Regions from separate parts of the Homo sapiens genome. Here region 2 is linked to region 1. Evidence: fine-mapped expression QTL. Tissue or cell type: caudate. Region 1 holds a variant in brackets; the other region holds the start of a gene. All regions are shown on one strand. Distances are between the middles of the regions.

Evidence for each region. PIP is the estimated chance that this variant, and not a neighbour inherited with it, causes the effect.
Region 2: it holds the start of RBP3, and the variant in region 1 is fine-mapped to the expression of RBP3 in caudate (GTEx, PIP 0.98).

Annotation. Positions count from the first base shown.
Region 1 is chr10:47,378,906-47,387,087 of GRCh38, forward strand. It overlaps ZNF488 (zinc finger protein 488), which reads right to left and starts at 5,388. Exons shown (of 2, transcript NM_153034.4): 1 at 5,315-5,388. RefSeq lists an enhancer at 5,295-5,794 and a silencer at 5,357-5,836. The variant G/T (reference allele first, on the strand shown) is at 4,386.
Region 2 is chr10:47,343,622-47,351,803 of GRCh38, forward strand. RBP3 (retinol binding protein 3) reads left to right here and starts at 4,742. Exons shown (of 4, transcript NM_002900.3): 1 at 4,742-7,917. The coding sequence starts at 4,864.

The sequences.
Region 1 (8,182 bases):
ACGTCAGAGGTGAATGTCGGCCAGTGTCTCCCAAAGAGGCAGAGGCAGAAACATCACTCCTCTCTGTGTTCCCGAGCAAAGCACTCAACCTCTCTGAGCCTCAGGTTTCCATCTGTAAAATGCGCTCTGGCTAAGCTGTCTCTCCAGGCCATCCCAGACCTACTCATGTATGACTAATTGGAAGAAACCAGTTCTCCTTTACAGCAGGATGGAACATTTGCTATCAGGATGCTTCAGGGTATCAGAATAGAAGTTACCATTTATCGGCTACGTAAGTATCTACATGACAAACAATAGTATTAACAAATGAAATAAGGCACCTTGTTCATTTCATTTTCATAAAAACCATATGAGGGAAGCTATGTGTCTCAATTCAGATGCACTTATCTCCAATCTGCCAAATGCCATCCCGATAAACTCAGGGCAGCATCTCAGCTTTCAGAGACCACTGTGGATCCTGACACCGCCAACTGCTGAATTAAATATCCCACCCAGCTTCACACTCCATCAATGTTAACATCCAGATCTTAATAAGAAGGAGCAGGAGGATGGAGAAAATGAGGAGATGAAACTAGGAACTAGCTGGGGACCTTTCATCCCACCTGGGACCCTGGAGGGTCACCGCTGTCGCATGCATCAGCACTGCATGGAGTAAGGTCAGTAAGGCCAGGGCACAGCACGTCCTCCAGAACCCCAACAGAACAAGGGCCAGACCGAAGACCTGCAAGGTGGAAAATGACGTGAGGCTGGCATGACTTGTCCCCAGGGAGCCCCCGCCAGCTCCTCATGCACGTCTCTCCTTTGCCCACAGACTCACAGCCTTCTTCTTAGTCTAGGATCTTTCCCAGGGCCAACATCAGATTTGAGTCTCTTCCACCTCCGGGCTTCATTTCCAACACCTCTCAGACAGCACCTCAGATGGGGGTATCTCATTCCAGGTCATGCTATACCCTGGCCAGGGCATTCTCTTGGTCAGAGCCCTGAGCACACACACTGCAGCCCACGCTACGTGGCTCCTGCTTTCCTCCGGGAACCTGCCTGCGCCCTTTGCACCTGCAGATCCTCCTCTGTCCAGACCGCTGTGGGCACAGTGGAGCTGTGCCTTCCTCCCCTTCACAGACACCAGCTGCCCTAGACGGCGATGGATCTATGAAGCCCTTGTTCTCCTTGCTCCGAACATGATATGAAAAGATGCTTTGTGGTCGTCAGCTCTCCTCAGTAGGTTCAGTTCACACCCGGGCTCTCACCCCCTGACACTCTTTACTGGCCCTCGTCACTCTGTCATTGTGAGTGTCCTGGGAAGGGCTCCTCTTGTTCTCCTTGGCTCTTGTCCCTCTGACCTCAGCAAGACATCTTTCTGAGCCACACAGATGTCTCTCATTGCCACCCCATGTCTTTCCTACTTGAAAAAAACAGATTTAATTCCAGGACTCACCCACCACTTTCAGAGCCCTCAGATCACGTGAATCACAGAAATCAAGTGATGATCTTTGAAACTTTCTGAAACTGAGCTCCCCAAGTCTACAGGGGATCTAACCATGCCTGGCCTTCCCCACCAACACAGAGCACATCTCCCAAAGGCTTCCAACCAACCTGGGCCATCAACCAGGGTCCCCTGTTGCCCAACTCAGCAAGTGCTGCATCCTGGGAGATGAAGCCTCGCCCACCCCACAGTGTTAAGAGCTTGTGGTTCTCGGTTTATCACCCATCCTCTGGTGACTGCACACTGATCATTCACTCATCTGGGAACCACTGGCCACATTCTCCCACATTATCACCTTGACCAGGTTGTCTCAGGTAACCTTCGAGCCTTCCATCCAAATAGATGTTAAGTGCACGGGCTCCACGGTTGGAGGCCAGCTCTGCTGTATCCAACCTGTGACCTTGGGCAAGGCGTGGGTCCCCTCCAGGCCTGTTTTCTGATCTATAAAGAGGGTCACCTTGGTGTTTTCTTCACTGGGTTGTGGGAAAGATTAGAAGGATTAATATAGAGAAAGTGCTAAGGAACCTGGCTCAGTAAACATTAGGGGTATCACTTCTTATCGCACTGAGTGCAAAGGGACAGAGTCCACTCCATGGCAGCCTTCCCATTACTCCTGAGCTCTCAGGGACCAGTGCATAACAGTGTTTAATAAATGACCAAACAGCCTGGGCATTTTTCTCCTTCCTGCTCCACCTACAGAAGAAAGAACTCTTGGCAAACATCTGGATAACCTCTTTTTCCTGGGATGTCTGAAGTCACTCCCTAACCCAAGCCAACTGGCCAGCCTCAAGCTGTTCTGAGCTGCAGGTCAGGCACCAGATCTTATTCAGAGACACCATGTACCCCCACCCGCTCCCCCCAAGCAGTGCTTTGCTGCATCTGCTTTTCTCTTCAGTTAAAACACACAAGAGCAGAAAATACCTCCTGTCTTCTAATCCTTTGGTATCCCTAGTCTCTGCAGAAGCTTCCCAGACCCTTTTGGAAGATTCCAGAGGACAATCATCTACGGGCCTTTTCTGCATTTGGATTGTGAGGTCCTGGGGTTTCCTAAGAAAGGGAATACACCTGTTTCCAGGAATCCTCCTGGCTCTGGCACACTGAGGAAATTAAACACTGAAGGTGATCCAGGCTTTCCCAGAGGCTGGCTGGTGGCACTGGGGAGATGAGCAATTCCTGGTCAGCCCCTACAGGCTCTGTGGCCAGCTACGCCTGGACCCCTCTAGCAGCAATGCCTGCTGCATTCGAGGAAAGCCAAGTGCAGGAGACTGCGAACACAGCCAGTACCCATGGAAGCAGGGAGAGTGGCCCTAGTGCAACATAACTTGGCCACGTCGACCCTCATAGGGGTGGATGTGATCTCATCATCCACTCAGATGTCTGAGACTGTGCAGAAGCAGGGCCAGTGAAAGCAGAGGGCAGATCCAATGCTTCAATGGGGCCCTGCTGTGCAGATTGAGAGTCTGCCATGAATATGACTGAGGATGGCCAGGACATAGAACAGGGAGCAGTGTTCTGCCAAACAATGCCAATAGGCAGTGGCTGGTGCTGTGTGGAGTGATATTTTAGACGTTATATTTGCCAGGGCTGCAGCAACATGGAAGTCACATAAAGGGACTGAATTAGCCCTGGTCACTCAGGCGCCAGGGCACTACTTGTGTTCCAAATCAACCCTGCCACTACCTGCCTGAGCTCAGACAAACACTCTGGGCCTCCATCTCTTCATAAGTAAAACAAGAATGGTGATCTTCACTTCAGGCACTCACGGACAGGACTCAACAGGGCTCTGTGCATGCCAGATAGCAAGAGCACAAGGAACAGCAGCTCTTTTCCTGATACAACTAGAGAATAAAGGTGGAGCCTGAGACAGTGGTCCCAATTCCACTGGCAGCCTTCAGGCAAAAAGTCCATGATTTTACCTCAGCTATTCCTTCCGACCTTCCCAGGTTCCAACAATAGCATCATCTAAGGATAAAAAGACAATGATGTTCTTATAGAGGCACAGACCACTAATGAGGAAAAATAAGTTTAAAAATATTTAAGTTTGTCTTTTTTTTTAAATAATTGGTGTGATTATATGTTTCAAACAAAAGTTGCCACCTCTTGGATGTCTGAAAAGAAATCTGCCAAGCAAAGCAGACACGATGATTCTAAATCATTTGCAAAGTCTTTTATCCCTCCCCCCAGAATCCGCATATGTTGGGGATCAGGGATTAGATATAAAGGCAATTTAACTTTTTAAACCAGAAAAAAGCCTCACAAATCACAGTTCCATGCACATACCTATGAATTTGTCCAAAATATCTAGCATATGCAAATTCTTTCACTGAACACACTGCAATGCACCTTCATCATACTTAATTTCTGTTTAATTCTGTGTGATTTATCTACGGCCAAATTTCCATTTCTGTATCAATCAAAAGTAAATTAGTTGAATTTTCATTAAAGGTCATAATAAACTACAATATCATGTTAACTTATTTCCAAGAAGTGAAAGCTTCAACCTTTATTGGTAATTAAGATCTTTACAAACAAACAAGGGCTCTTTTATAACTTAGTGCATATATATTATGTATTTGTGTGTGTTTGAACATATAAATATGTATGTGTCATAAAATATCATTAAAAACTAAATCACATATCTCTGATAAGATTACATTGTAACCAAGAAACAAAAAATTGCCTCGATATAGTTCTATTTTATCCCTCAAAAAGAATGAGACTTGATTTTCTAGAGTTCGTCCCTTATGCATCTACGACAATCTTTGATACTAACAGGAAATATTTTCCCCTTGGCCCTCCTATCTAATGTACATAAAATCATTACTTTCAAATGCCATAATTACTGCCATAAAATGTCTAATGTCTCCCTCAGGAGTAATTAATTTCATTTCTGTACATCAGT[G/T]GCATTGGCAACTACATATTTTAGAAATTTACTGTTAATTTCTTATTTCCAGGCTCCCTCAAATGTTTCAAAGCCCTGGCCTCCCACTGTCTTCCTACAACCCTGCTCTGAATCCTGTCCCCTCCCTCCCCTGCACCTGGCATTGCATAGCCTGCCCAGAAGGCAGGTGTGGGTGGGAACGCCCCCTAAATGCTTCTGCAAGGCTTAGCTTCCTGCTGTGCTGTCTGTGTCTATTAGTAAAGGCAAAATGTCAAGGAAAGGATTCAATCAACCCCTTGTCTCTAAAACCAGGTATGTTCTTTTAGCTCATTCTAAAAACTCATTATAATGTGATCATTTGGTATTGTTTTGTTTCCCAGGAAAGGCAGTGAACAGGATACATGTCCAGATCTTTGGATATAATCTGTTGGAGAAAGGATCTGGGGCTGATGCATGGTTCTTACCCTACTGCCCAGCGCAAGCCCGGGCTGAGAATAACAGCAACACAGGATAAACCCCGGGAGAGACAGTGGGAGGGAGGAAAACAACTGCAGCCTGAAAGTCACCCTAGGAGAAAAATTCATAGGCAGAATTCTTGAGTGCTGAAAAAACAGGGGGGAGAGGGAGAAGGTAGGGGAGAAGAATAAACAAAGAGAGGAAAAGAGAGAGGGAGAGAGACTGACACAGAAGAAAATGAAAACAGGAAGACAATAAAGAAGAGATAGAGGAGAAAAAGTGAGAGAAGAGAAAGGGAACAGAAACGGGGATGGGACTCGGAGACGACGTGGGAGAGAGAGGAAGCTGGCGACATTGGGAAGGAAAGGACCCCACAGTCAAAGGCAGGACTCAACAACCCTGTCCTGGGGAAAGGCTGATGTGGAAGTGAGATGGACCCCGCCGCCCGCGCCCGCTCGCGGCTCTGTCCCTGCAGACAGGAGGGTGCGCCTCACCTGGGCTCTCTGGAGATGTGGAGCAAGAGGTGCTGGTGCAGCACAGCCTCCTCCCGGCCAAGAGCACTGCGCGTGGCTCTGAACTTGGCGCCGGAGCCCTGAGGGCGGCCAGATCCCGCCCCCAAGCCGCTCCCGCCTTCGGGGCGTGGTCTCGGCGTCGCCCACCCCCAGGGAAGCTCCAGCCTTCGGGGCGGGGCTTGCGGGTGGGCGGCCCCGGCAGGGGAGGGTGCCGCTGGCCAAAGAACTCACAACCCCGGGAGAAAACCCCCTTCTGACCCTCTGGGCTGCCCGGCCCTTCCCCGGCTCAGCTCCGCGGAGATGCCCCCAGCTGGCTTGGTCAGGGCCGGGCGCCATCGCCTGCGGGAGGGCGAGGGCGTTCTTTGGAGGCGGTGCCTGCTCTCGCCTACGCCCTCTGGTCCTGGGCGCCCGACCTCTCGCTCCTGGGCCCGCGGGGCCTCGGCGATGCGGGCGAGGGCTGCGCGCGGTGCCTGCGGCTCCAGTCTGCGCCGAGGACCCCCACGGCCTCCTGGCCCTCCTTCCCCCAGCAGCCTGGCGGCCGCTCGATCGGCACCTCCCCCCGCCGGAATCGCCCAGCTCCCCCCGGGAGCGCCCGCCGCCTCTGCTCCCCAGACCTCAGCTGTGACCACGCAACGCTCTGCCAGGAAGGCGGACTCCGCGACTCGGGCCATGGTGGAAAATGACAGTTAAAGTGCGTTAAAATTAAGAACTTATACTTTGATTAAAAAACAACAAACGGAGTGAAAAAGCAAGCCACACACTGAAAGAAGATACTTGCAGCAATTGATAAAGGATTAGTATCCAGGATATATACTTTTAATGAATTAGTGTGAAAGAGAGGAACACCCAAAGCAACGAATGGACACAGACATGAATAGGCACTTCAAAGAGGAACCACTAACGACCAAAATCATGTGAAAGGACGAAGTCTCTAGAGTAATTAGAAAATGCAAATTAAGACCACAAGGAGATGTTTAATCATTAGGCATAAATGTTAAAATATAATAATACCAACTGTCATGGAAGGCATGAAGCAAGGGAACCCTAATATGCTGGGGCGAAGTACACCCAATTTCATTTATTATAAAAGACCACTAATTTAAGATATTCTATTATACTAAATACAGCTCCAAAAGAGGGGGAAAAAACTGACAACCAACCAACTCAAATGCTTTTCATCACTTGTAATTTTTAAGTTATATAAAGAAAGATCTATTTTAGACTGTATTAATCCATTCTCACACTGCTATAAAGAATTGCCTGAGACTGGGTAATTTATAAAGGAAAGAGGTTTAATTGACTCACAGTTCAGCATGGATGCAGAGGCCTCGGGAAACTTACAATCATGGTGGAAGTGGAAGCAAAACAGGTCCTTCTTCACAGGGTGGCTGGAAGGAGAAGAATGAGAGAAGTGCAGAGTGAAGGGGGTAAAAGCCCCTCACAAACCCATTAGATTGCCTGAGAACTCACTCACTATCATGAGAACAGCACAGGGCAACCACCGCCATGATTCAATCACCTCCCAGTAAGTCCCTCCCCCTACATATGGGCATTACAATAAGGACTATAATTCAAGATGAGATTTGGGTGGGGAAACAGAGGCAGGCCATATTATTCCACCCCTGGTCCTTCTCAAATCTCATGTCCTCATATTTCAAAACACAATCATGCCTTTCGAACAGTCTGCCAACGTCTTAACTAATTCCATCATTAACCCAAAAGTCCAAGTTCAAAGTCTCATCTGAGACAAGGCAAGTCCTTTCCACCCATGAACCTGTAAAATCAAAAGAAAGTTATTTCCTAGATATAATGCAAGTACAGGCATTGTGTAAATACACCCATTCCAAATGGGAGAAATTGACCAAAACAAAGGGACTACAGGCCCCATGCAAGTTTGAAACCCAATAGGGCAGTCATTAAACCTTAAAGTTCCAAAATGACCTCCTTTGACTCCATGTCTCACACCCAGGTCATGCTGGTGCAAGATGTGGACTCCCACGGCCTTGGGCAGCTCTGGCCCTGTGACTTTACAGGGTACAGACCCCCTCCCAGCTGCTTTCTTGGGCTGCCTTTGAGTGCCTGTGGCTTTTCCAGGCACAAGGTGCAAGTTGTCGGTGGATCTACCATTCTTGGATTTGAAGGGCAGTTGTCCTCTTCTCACAGCTCCACTAGGCAGTGCCCAAGTGGGGACTCTGTGTGGGAGCTCCAGCCCCACATTTCCCTTCTGCACTGCCCTAACAGAGGTTCTCCATCAGGGGCCTGCCCTTGCAGCAACTTCTGCCTGGTCATCTAGGTGTTTCCACACATCCTCGGAAATCTAGGCAGAGATTTCCCAACCTCAATTCTTTTTTTTTTTTTCTTTCCTGACATGGAGTCCCACTCTGTTGCCCAGGCTGGAGTGCAGTGGCATGATCTCGGCTCACTGTGACCTCCACCTCCTGGGTTTAAGTGATTCTCCACTTCAGCCTCCCAGGTAGCTGGGATTACAGGCACCTGCCACCATGCCAGGCTAATTTTTGTATTTTTAGTACAGACAGAGTTTCACCATGTTGGCCAGGCTGGTCTTGAATTCCTGGCCTCAGGAGATCCGCTGGCCTTGGCCTCCCAAAGTGCTGGGATTACTGGCGTGAGCCACCACACCTGGCCCCAAACCTCAATTCTTGACTTCTGTGCACCCACAGGCCCAACACCATGTGCAAGCTTCCAAGGCTTGGGGCTTGAACCCTCTGAAACAATGGCCCAAGTTGTACCTTGGCCCCTTTTAGCCACGGCAGGAGCTGAAGCAACTGAGACGCAGGGCACTATGTTCCAAGGCTGCATAGAGGAGATGAGGGCCAATGAGCCTGGCCC
Region 2 (8,182 bases), 35 kb before region 1:
ATTATGCTGGGCAAAAGAAAACAGATAAAAAAAGGGTATCATTTCTTTTATAGCAAATTCTAGAAGCTACAAGCTAATCTATAGTGTTGGCAGCAAGTAAATCCATGTTTGTCTGGATATGGGAATGCAGAGGGGACTGGGGAGCAAAGGGGCACCAGGAAAACTTGAGGGCGACAGCAATATATGTTGCCCAGGTGGCGGTGAGAATTTCGGGGGGGTATGCATGTGTCAAAACTGACTAAATGATACACTTCAAATAGGTTCATTATATGTTAATTATACATCAATTAAGTAGTGAAAAAAGGACGTACTTATTAGATAATTTAAAAGGTACTGAAAAAATACAATACAGGAAACAAACAAGTGTATATGCCCTTTGACTCAGCAAGCCCAAGTTTGGGAATTTATCCACAAACAAAAAAGCACCTTAGGCCCTTAAGAACGCGTTTTCAAAAACATTTATCGCAATATCGCTGAAACAATATTGAAGTAAAAACAGAAAAAGCTTAAAATATGCCTCACAAAGGGTCAGTAAATCATCAAGAACTACTACAGGATGAGTATCCATTATCTGAAAGTTTTGGAGAAAGAAGTGTTTTAGATTTCAGATTCTTTTTGGATTTTGGAATATCTGTATGTACATAATGAGATATCCTGGGAGTGGGACTCTAGTCTAAACACAGTATTTATGCCTCATGTATGCCTTATACGCATAGCCTAAAGGTAACTATATCAATATTTTAAATAATTTTTTGCATGAAACAAAGTTGGTGTTAAGTACTTATGTGTGAAATTTTTCACTTGTGGTGTTGTGTCGGTGCTCAAAAAGTTTCAGGTTTTGGAGCATTTCAGATTTCAGATTTTTAGATTAGGGATCCCCAGACTACATGTAGCCATTAAAAGGATGAGTTTAATGAGTATACTTCAACTGGGAAGGATGTTTGTGTTGTATGTTTAAGTGAGTAAAACAAAATGCAAATTATCATCTATGCTAATAAACGGCTGACAATAGGATGGACAAATGGATGGGGTGCCCATAGATGTGTGGATGGATCTCTCCTATATGTGCACCTCCCTGCGTGTACACAGACACAGGTGACAATGGCTAGACATTCAATGCTGATTATTTGTTACTAAAGGAGGCTGGATTTTAAAAGCTTTGGAAAAGGTTTGTTTGCACATTTCTACAAAAATGAGTATGTTTTACTCCTCTGATTTAAGAAAAAAGTAAAATGAAAATACATAAAATGAATAAAAAGTCAAGGTTCAATTTGCTTTGAAGTGCATTTAAAAATGTGTTGGTTTGCAGGGGAGAGGAGGCTTGCAGGGTAGAAGAGGCTAGTGAGGCGGAGCTGAGATGAGAAAGGGGTAATAAAATGTCTGTGGTAGAATCTAGGGAGGCAGCCATTAAACTAAGGTGGCTCTAACGCCCTGATTTCCTACAAGAGCAAATTGAAATCTAACTCAGACTCATTTACTGTAAGCAGCTAATTTAAAAGAAACCGAAGCTTAAGTCCAGCCAACCACTGATGGCCAACTGGACATCAGTTGCATGGTCTCGAACTTTCCACTAGGATGTCCCAAATCATGCAAGGGCCGAAACGCTAAGCAACCAAAGCATCTGTAATATTTATTCCACTTCTGCCTTCACCCTGTGGAAGCCTCCCCTTGTGCTCCCTTGCAGAGCCCCAAACTGCCTCTTGTGGGGAGCTACCAGATTCATGAATCGCTATCTGCTCGGATAAGTTCTTTAAAATGTGAACATGTCAAAGCATTTCTTTAAATGATGGCATATAGATATTTGCTGTACCACTTGAACATTTCCATTATAAAACATCGAGGGGAAAACTAACATAAAACAATAGACAGACGAGGGCTTTGGCCACTGAAAAGACAACATCTGTGATGCAATAGGCAAGACGCTCCTTCCTGTACTGCCCAGCTCCGCTTGCTCCCTGACCATCCCTGCAGCAGCCCTGATGTGTCATTGTCCCCCTCTTAACCTGCGCTGCAGGTGCTGCAGGGCTGGGCTCTGGAGCCTGGGTCTGGTCATTTCTCCTTAGATATGTAGAGGCCCAGGAAAGGTTTGGAGCCTAAGAAGCCCTAGGACTCCAGGTCTCCAGGGCAGCCCCAGCCTCTTGGAATGACTTTCCCTAATACCACAGGGGTGTTCTAATCCCAGGCAGACCCAAGCTGCCCCTCACCAACTCCTACGTCCTCAACTTCCTTTCATAACTTCTAGGATGGAAACACCTAATCCTCCAGCAATACTGAGGCTTTTCTCCTTATTCTGTTTTCCCTTTTGAAGAAGCCAAGGCTCAGAGCAGTCGAGTCACCTAATCATGGTCTCATGTCGCCTGATCAAGGTCTCATGTCACCTTATCAAGATCTCACCCACTCACCTATTCAGTTCTCACCAGTTCAGTTCAGGATGGCTTCTAAGCTACCCTGCACAGCTCTGCCCACAGGACATTTGTATAAGTGAGGGGGTGCAGGGCCTTCCAGCCCCCTCCAACTCCAAAACTCAGCCCCCAAGATCAAGTGGACTCTCTGAACCCACCCTGGCCCTACAGTTGTCAGGGTCTGGATGGGAAGATGTAGAGCTCTCGGCTTTCACTCTGGGGACTTACCCAGAACATATTCTCCTCATGAGCTAAGGAGGCTGGCTGCCATCTTCCTACATCCCCCCACGGCCTGGGGGCAAGGACACCCTGGCCCCCTGGAGTCTGGAGAACTCTGAGGACAGAACTTGCTCTTCCACCTGCTTGGGCCTTACCCACAGGAGAAGCACTGCTTCTCTACCCATGCCCCATCCAACTCAGGCACCCCAGGGACTTGCAACAGTCTGATTTTTTCTCACGTCCTTCTTAAGGCTCTGGGCTAGCCACACAAATCAAATCCCAGTGATAGGTCCAGACAATCCTATCCTGAAACTACATCTTAGTAAGACTCCAGGGAATCCTTTCCCCAAAGACAGTCTTACTCCTGTTCTCCCCCAAGCCCTTTCTGGGCCAGAAGCTTTGCCTGGACTCAAGCAATGGCAGACAAGTGCCCTCTGAGGACACGGAAGTGCATGCTCAGAACTGTGATTCTCCAAGTGGAGGCAGAGGAGAAGGCCCAGGCTTCCCAGCAGGGCTAAGGATATGCAAGGAGTGCATTCATCCGGAGGTGTTGGCAGCATCCCAGCCCCACCCCATTCTCATCGTAAATCAGGCTCACTTCCATTGGCTGCATACGGTGGAGTGATGTGACCATATGTCACTTGAGCATTACACAAATCCTAATGAGCTAAAAATATGTTTGTTTTAGCTAATTGACCTCTTTGGCCTTCATAAAGCAGTTGGTAAACATCCTCAGATAATGATTTCCAAAGAGCAGATTGTGGGTCTCAGCTGTGTAGAGAAAGCCCACGTCCCTGAGACCACCTTCTCCAGCTGCCTACTGAGGCACACAGGGGCGCCTGCCTGCTGCCCGCTCAGCCAAGGCGGTGTTGCTGGAGCCAGCTTGGGACAGCTCTCCCAACGCTCTGCCCTGGCCTTGCGACCACTCTCTGGGCCGTAGTTGTCTGTCTGTTAAGTGAGGAAAGTGCCCATCTCCAGAGGCATTCAGCGGCAAAGCAGGGCTTCCAGGTTCCGACCCCATAGCAGGACTTCTTGGATTTCTACAGCCAGTCAGTTGCAAGCAGCACCCACATTATTTCTATAAGAAGTGGCAGGAGCTGGGATCTGAAGAGTTCAGCAGTCTACCTTTCCCTGTTTCTTGTGCTTTATGCAGTCAGGAGGAATGATCTGGATTCCATGTGAAGCCTGGGACCACGGAGACCCAAGACTTCCTGCTTGATTCTCCCTGCGAACTGCAGGCTGTGGGCTGAGCCTTCAAGAAGCAGGAGTCCCCTCTAGCCATTAACTCTCAGAGCTAACCTCATTTGAATGGGAACACTAGTCCTGTGATGTCTGGAAGGTGGGCGCCTCTACACTCCACACCCTACATGGTGGTCCAGACACATCATTCCCAGCATTAGAAAGCTGTAGGGGGACCCGTTCTGTTCCCTGGAGGCATTAAAGGGACATAGAAATAAATCTCAAGCTCTGAGGCTGATGCCAGCCTCAGACTCAGCCTCTGCACTGTATGGGCCAATTGTAGCCCCAAGGACTTCTTCTTGCTGCACCCCCTATCTGTCCACACCTAAAACGATGGGCTTCTATTAGTTACAGAACTCTCTGGCCTGTTTTGTTTTGCTTTGCTTTGTTTTGTTTTGTTTTTTTGTTTTTTTGTTTTTTAGCTATGAAACAGAGGTAATATCTAATACAGATAACTTACCAGTAATGAGTGCTTCCTACTTACTGGGTACTGGGAAGAAGTGCTTTACACATATTTTCTCATTTAATCTACACAATAAGTAATTAAGACATTTCCCTGAGGCCACGGGAGAGACAGTGGCAGAACAGTTCTCCAAGGAGGACTTGCAAGTTAATAACTGGACTTTGCAAGGCTCTGGTGGAAACTGTCAGCTTGTAAAGGATGGAGCACAGTGTCTGGCATGTAGCAGGAACTAAAATAATGGCAGTGATTAATGTTATGATATGCAGACACAACACAGCAAGATAAGATGCAATGTACCTTCTGGGTCAAACCACCCTGGCCACTCCTCCCCGATACCCAGGGTTGATGTGCTTGAATTAGACAGGATTAAAGGCTTACTGGAGCTGGAAGCCTTGCCCCAACTCAGGAGTTTAGCCCCAGACCTTCTGTCCACCAGCTGAGAAGGACAAGGGCGGAAGGCAGCTGCACAGAGCAGGGCCACGGCCTTGCACACAGTCCAGGGAGCTTTTGTGCAGGAGCCAGGCCTCCCCCTGGGTCCCCATGATGAGAGAATGGGTTCTGCTCATGTCCGTGCTGCTCTGTGGCCTGGCTGGCCCCACACACCTGTTCCAGCCAAGCCTGGTGCTGGACATGGCCAAGGTCCTCTTGGATAACTACTGCTTCCCGGAGAACCTGCTGGGCATGCAGGAAGCCATCCAGCAGGCCATCAAGAGCCATGAGATTCTGAGCATCTCAGACCCGCAGACGCTGGCCAGTGTGCTGACAGCCGGGGTGCAGAGCTCCCTGAACGATCCTCGCCTGGTCATCTCCTATGAGCCCAGCACCCCCGAGCCTCCCCCACAAGTCCCAGCACTCACCAGCCTCTCAGAAGAGGAACTGCTTGCCTGGCTGCAAAGGGGCCTCCGCCATGAGGTTCTGGAGGGTAATGTGGGCTACCTGCGGGTGGACAGCGTCCCGGGCCAGGAGGTGCTGAGCATGATGGGGGAGTTCCTGGTGGCCCACGTGTGGGGGAATCTCATGGGCACCTCCGCCTTAGTGCTGGATCTCCGGCACTGCACAGGAGGCCAGGTCTCTGGCATTCCCTACATCATCTCCTACCTGCACCCAGGGAACACCATCCTGCACGTGGACACTATCTACAACCGCCCCTCCAACACCACCACGGAGATCTGGACCTTGCCCCAGGTCCTGGGAGAAAGGTACGGTGCCGACAAGGATGTGGTGGTCCTCACCAGCAGCCAGACCAGGGGCGTGGCCGAGGACATCGCGCACATCCTTAAGCAGATGCGCAGGGCCATCGTGGTGGGCGAGCGGACTGGGGGAGGGGCCCTGGACCTCCGGAAGCTGAGGATAGGCGAGTCTGACTTCTTCTTCACGGTGCCCGTGTCCAGGTCCCTGGGGCCCCTTGGTGGAGGCAGCCAGACGTGGGAGGGCAGCGGGGTGCTGCCCTGTGTGGGGACTCCGGCCGAGCAGGCCCTGGAGAAAGCCCTGGCCATCCTCACTCTGCGCAGCGCCCTTCCAGGGGTAGTCCACTGCCTCCAGGAGGTCCTGAAGGACTACTACACGCTGGTGGACCGTGTGCCCACCCTGCTGCAGCACTTGGCCAGCATGGACTTCTCCACGGTGGTCTCCGAGGAAGATCTGGTCACCAAGCTCAATGCCGGCCTGCAGGCTGCGTCTGAGGATCCCAGGCTCCTGGTGCGAGCCATCGGGCCCACAGAAACTCCTTCTTGGCCCGCGCCCGACGCTGCAGCCGAAGACTCACCAGGGGTGGCCCCAGAGTTGCCTGAGGACGAGGCTATCCGGCAAGCACTGGTGGACTCTGTGTTCCAGGTGTCGGTGCTGCCAGGCAATGTGGGCTACCTGCGCTTCGATAGTTTTGCTGACGCCTCCGTCCTGGGTGTGTTGGCCCCATATGTCCTGCGCCAGGTGTGGGAGCCGCTACAGGACACGGAGCACCTCATCATGGACCTGCGCCACAACCCTGGAGGGCCATCCTCTGCTGTGCCCCTGCTCCTGTCCTACTTCCAGGGCCCTGAGGCCGGCCCCGTGCACCTCTTCACCACCTATGATCGCCGCACCAACATCACGCAGGAGCACTTCAGCCACATGGAGCTCCCGGGCCCACGCTACAGCACCCAACGTGGGGTGTATCTGCTCACCAGCCACCGCACCGCCACGGCCGCGGAGGAGTTCGCCTTCCTTATGCAGTCGCTGGGCTGGGCCACACTGGTAGGTGAGATCACCGCGGGCAACCTGCTGCACACCCGCACGGTGCCGCTGCTGGACACACCCGAAGGCAGCCTCGCGCTCACCGTGCCGGTCCTCACCTTCATCGACAATCACGGCGAGGCCTGGCTGGGTGGTGGAGTGGTGCCCGATGCCATCGTGCTGGCCGAGGAGGCCCTGGACAAAGCCCAGGAAGTGCTGGAGTTCCACCAAAGCCTGGGGGCCTTGGTGGAGGGCACAGGGCACCTGCTGGAGGCCCACTATGCTCGGCCAGAGGTCGTGGGGCAGACCAGTGCCCTCCTGCGGGCCAAGCTGGCCCAGGGCGCCTACCGCACAGCTGTGGACTTGGAGTCTCTGGCCTCTCAGCTCACAGCAGACCTCCAGGAGGTGTCTGGGGACCACCGCTTGCTAGTGTTCCACAGCCCTGGCGAGCTGGTGGTAGAGGAAGCACCCCCACCACCCCCTGCTGTCCCCTCTCCAGAGGAGCTCACCTACCTTATTGAGGCCCTGTTCAAGACAGAGGTGCTGCCCGGCCAGCTGGGCTACCTGCGTTTTGACGCCATGGCTGAACTGGAGACAGTGAAGGCCGTGGGGCCACAGCTGGTGCGGCTGGTATGGCAACAGCTGGTGGACACGGCTGCGCTGGTGATCGACCTGCGCTACAACCCTGGCAGCTACTCCACGGCCATCCCGCTGCTCTGCTCCTACTTCTTTGAGGCAGAGCCCCGCCAGCACCTGTATTCTGTCTTTGACAGGGCCACCTCAAAAGTCACGGAGGTGTGGACCTTGCCCCAGGTCGCCGGCCAGCGCTACGGCTCACACAAGGACCTCTACATCCTGATGAGCCACACCAGTGGCTCTGCGGCCGAGGCCTTTGCACACACCATGCAGGACCTGCAGCGGGCCACGGTCATTGGGGAGCCCACGGCCGGAGGCGCACTCTCTGTGGGCATCTACCAGGTGGGCAGCAGCCCCTTATATGCATCCATGCCCACCCAGATGGCCATGAGTGCCACCACAGGCAAGGCCTGGGACCTGGCTGGTGTGGAGCCCGACATCACTGTGCCCATGAGCGAAGCCCTTTCCATAGCCCAGGACATAGTGGCTCTGCGTGCCAAGGTGCCCACGGTGCTGCAGACGGCCGGGAAGCTGGTGGCTGATAACTATGCCTCTGCCGAGCTGGGGGCCAAGATGGCCACCAAACTGAGCGGTCTGCAGAGCCGCTACTCCAGGGTGACCTCAGAAGTGGCCCTAGCCGAGATCCTGGGGGCTGACCTGCAGATGCTCTCCGGAGACCCACACCTGAAGGCAGCCCATATCCCTGAGAATGCCAAGGACCGCATTCCTGGAATTGTGCCCATGCAGGTGAGACCCAAGAGAGACCTGGCTGAACCCAGTCCCGGGAGTGAGTTGACCCATTGTCCGCACATGCAGGGCTCTGTGCACAGTGCGTGACAATGGCTTTTAGATTTGTTCTCACGTTTAAGTTTTGACCGGTCAAGTCCTTTCCTCTTTCTCAACCTGTTCCATCCACTCTCTGTGACCCTGGGGTTGCTGAACACCTCTGTAGAACATTCATATTAGGTTGGTGCAAAAGTACTTTCAATGGCAAAACCCGCAATTACTTTTG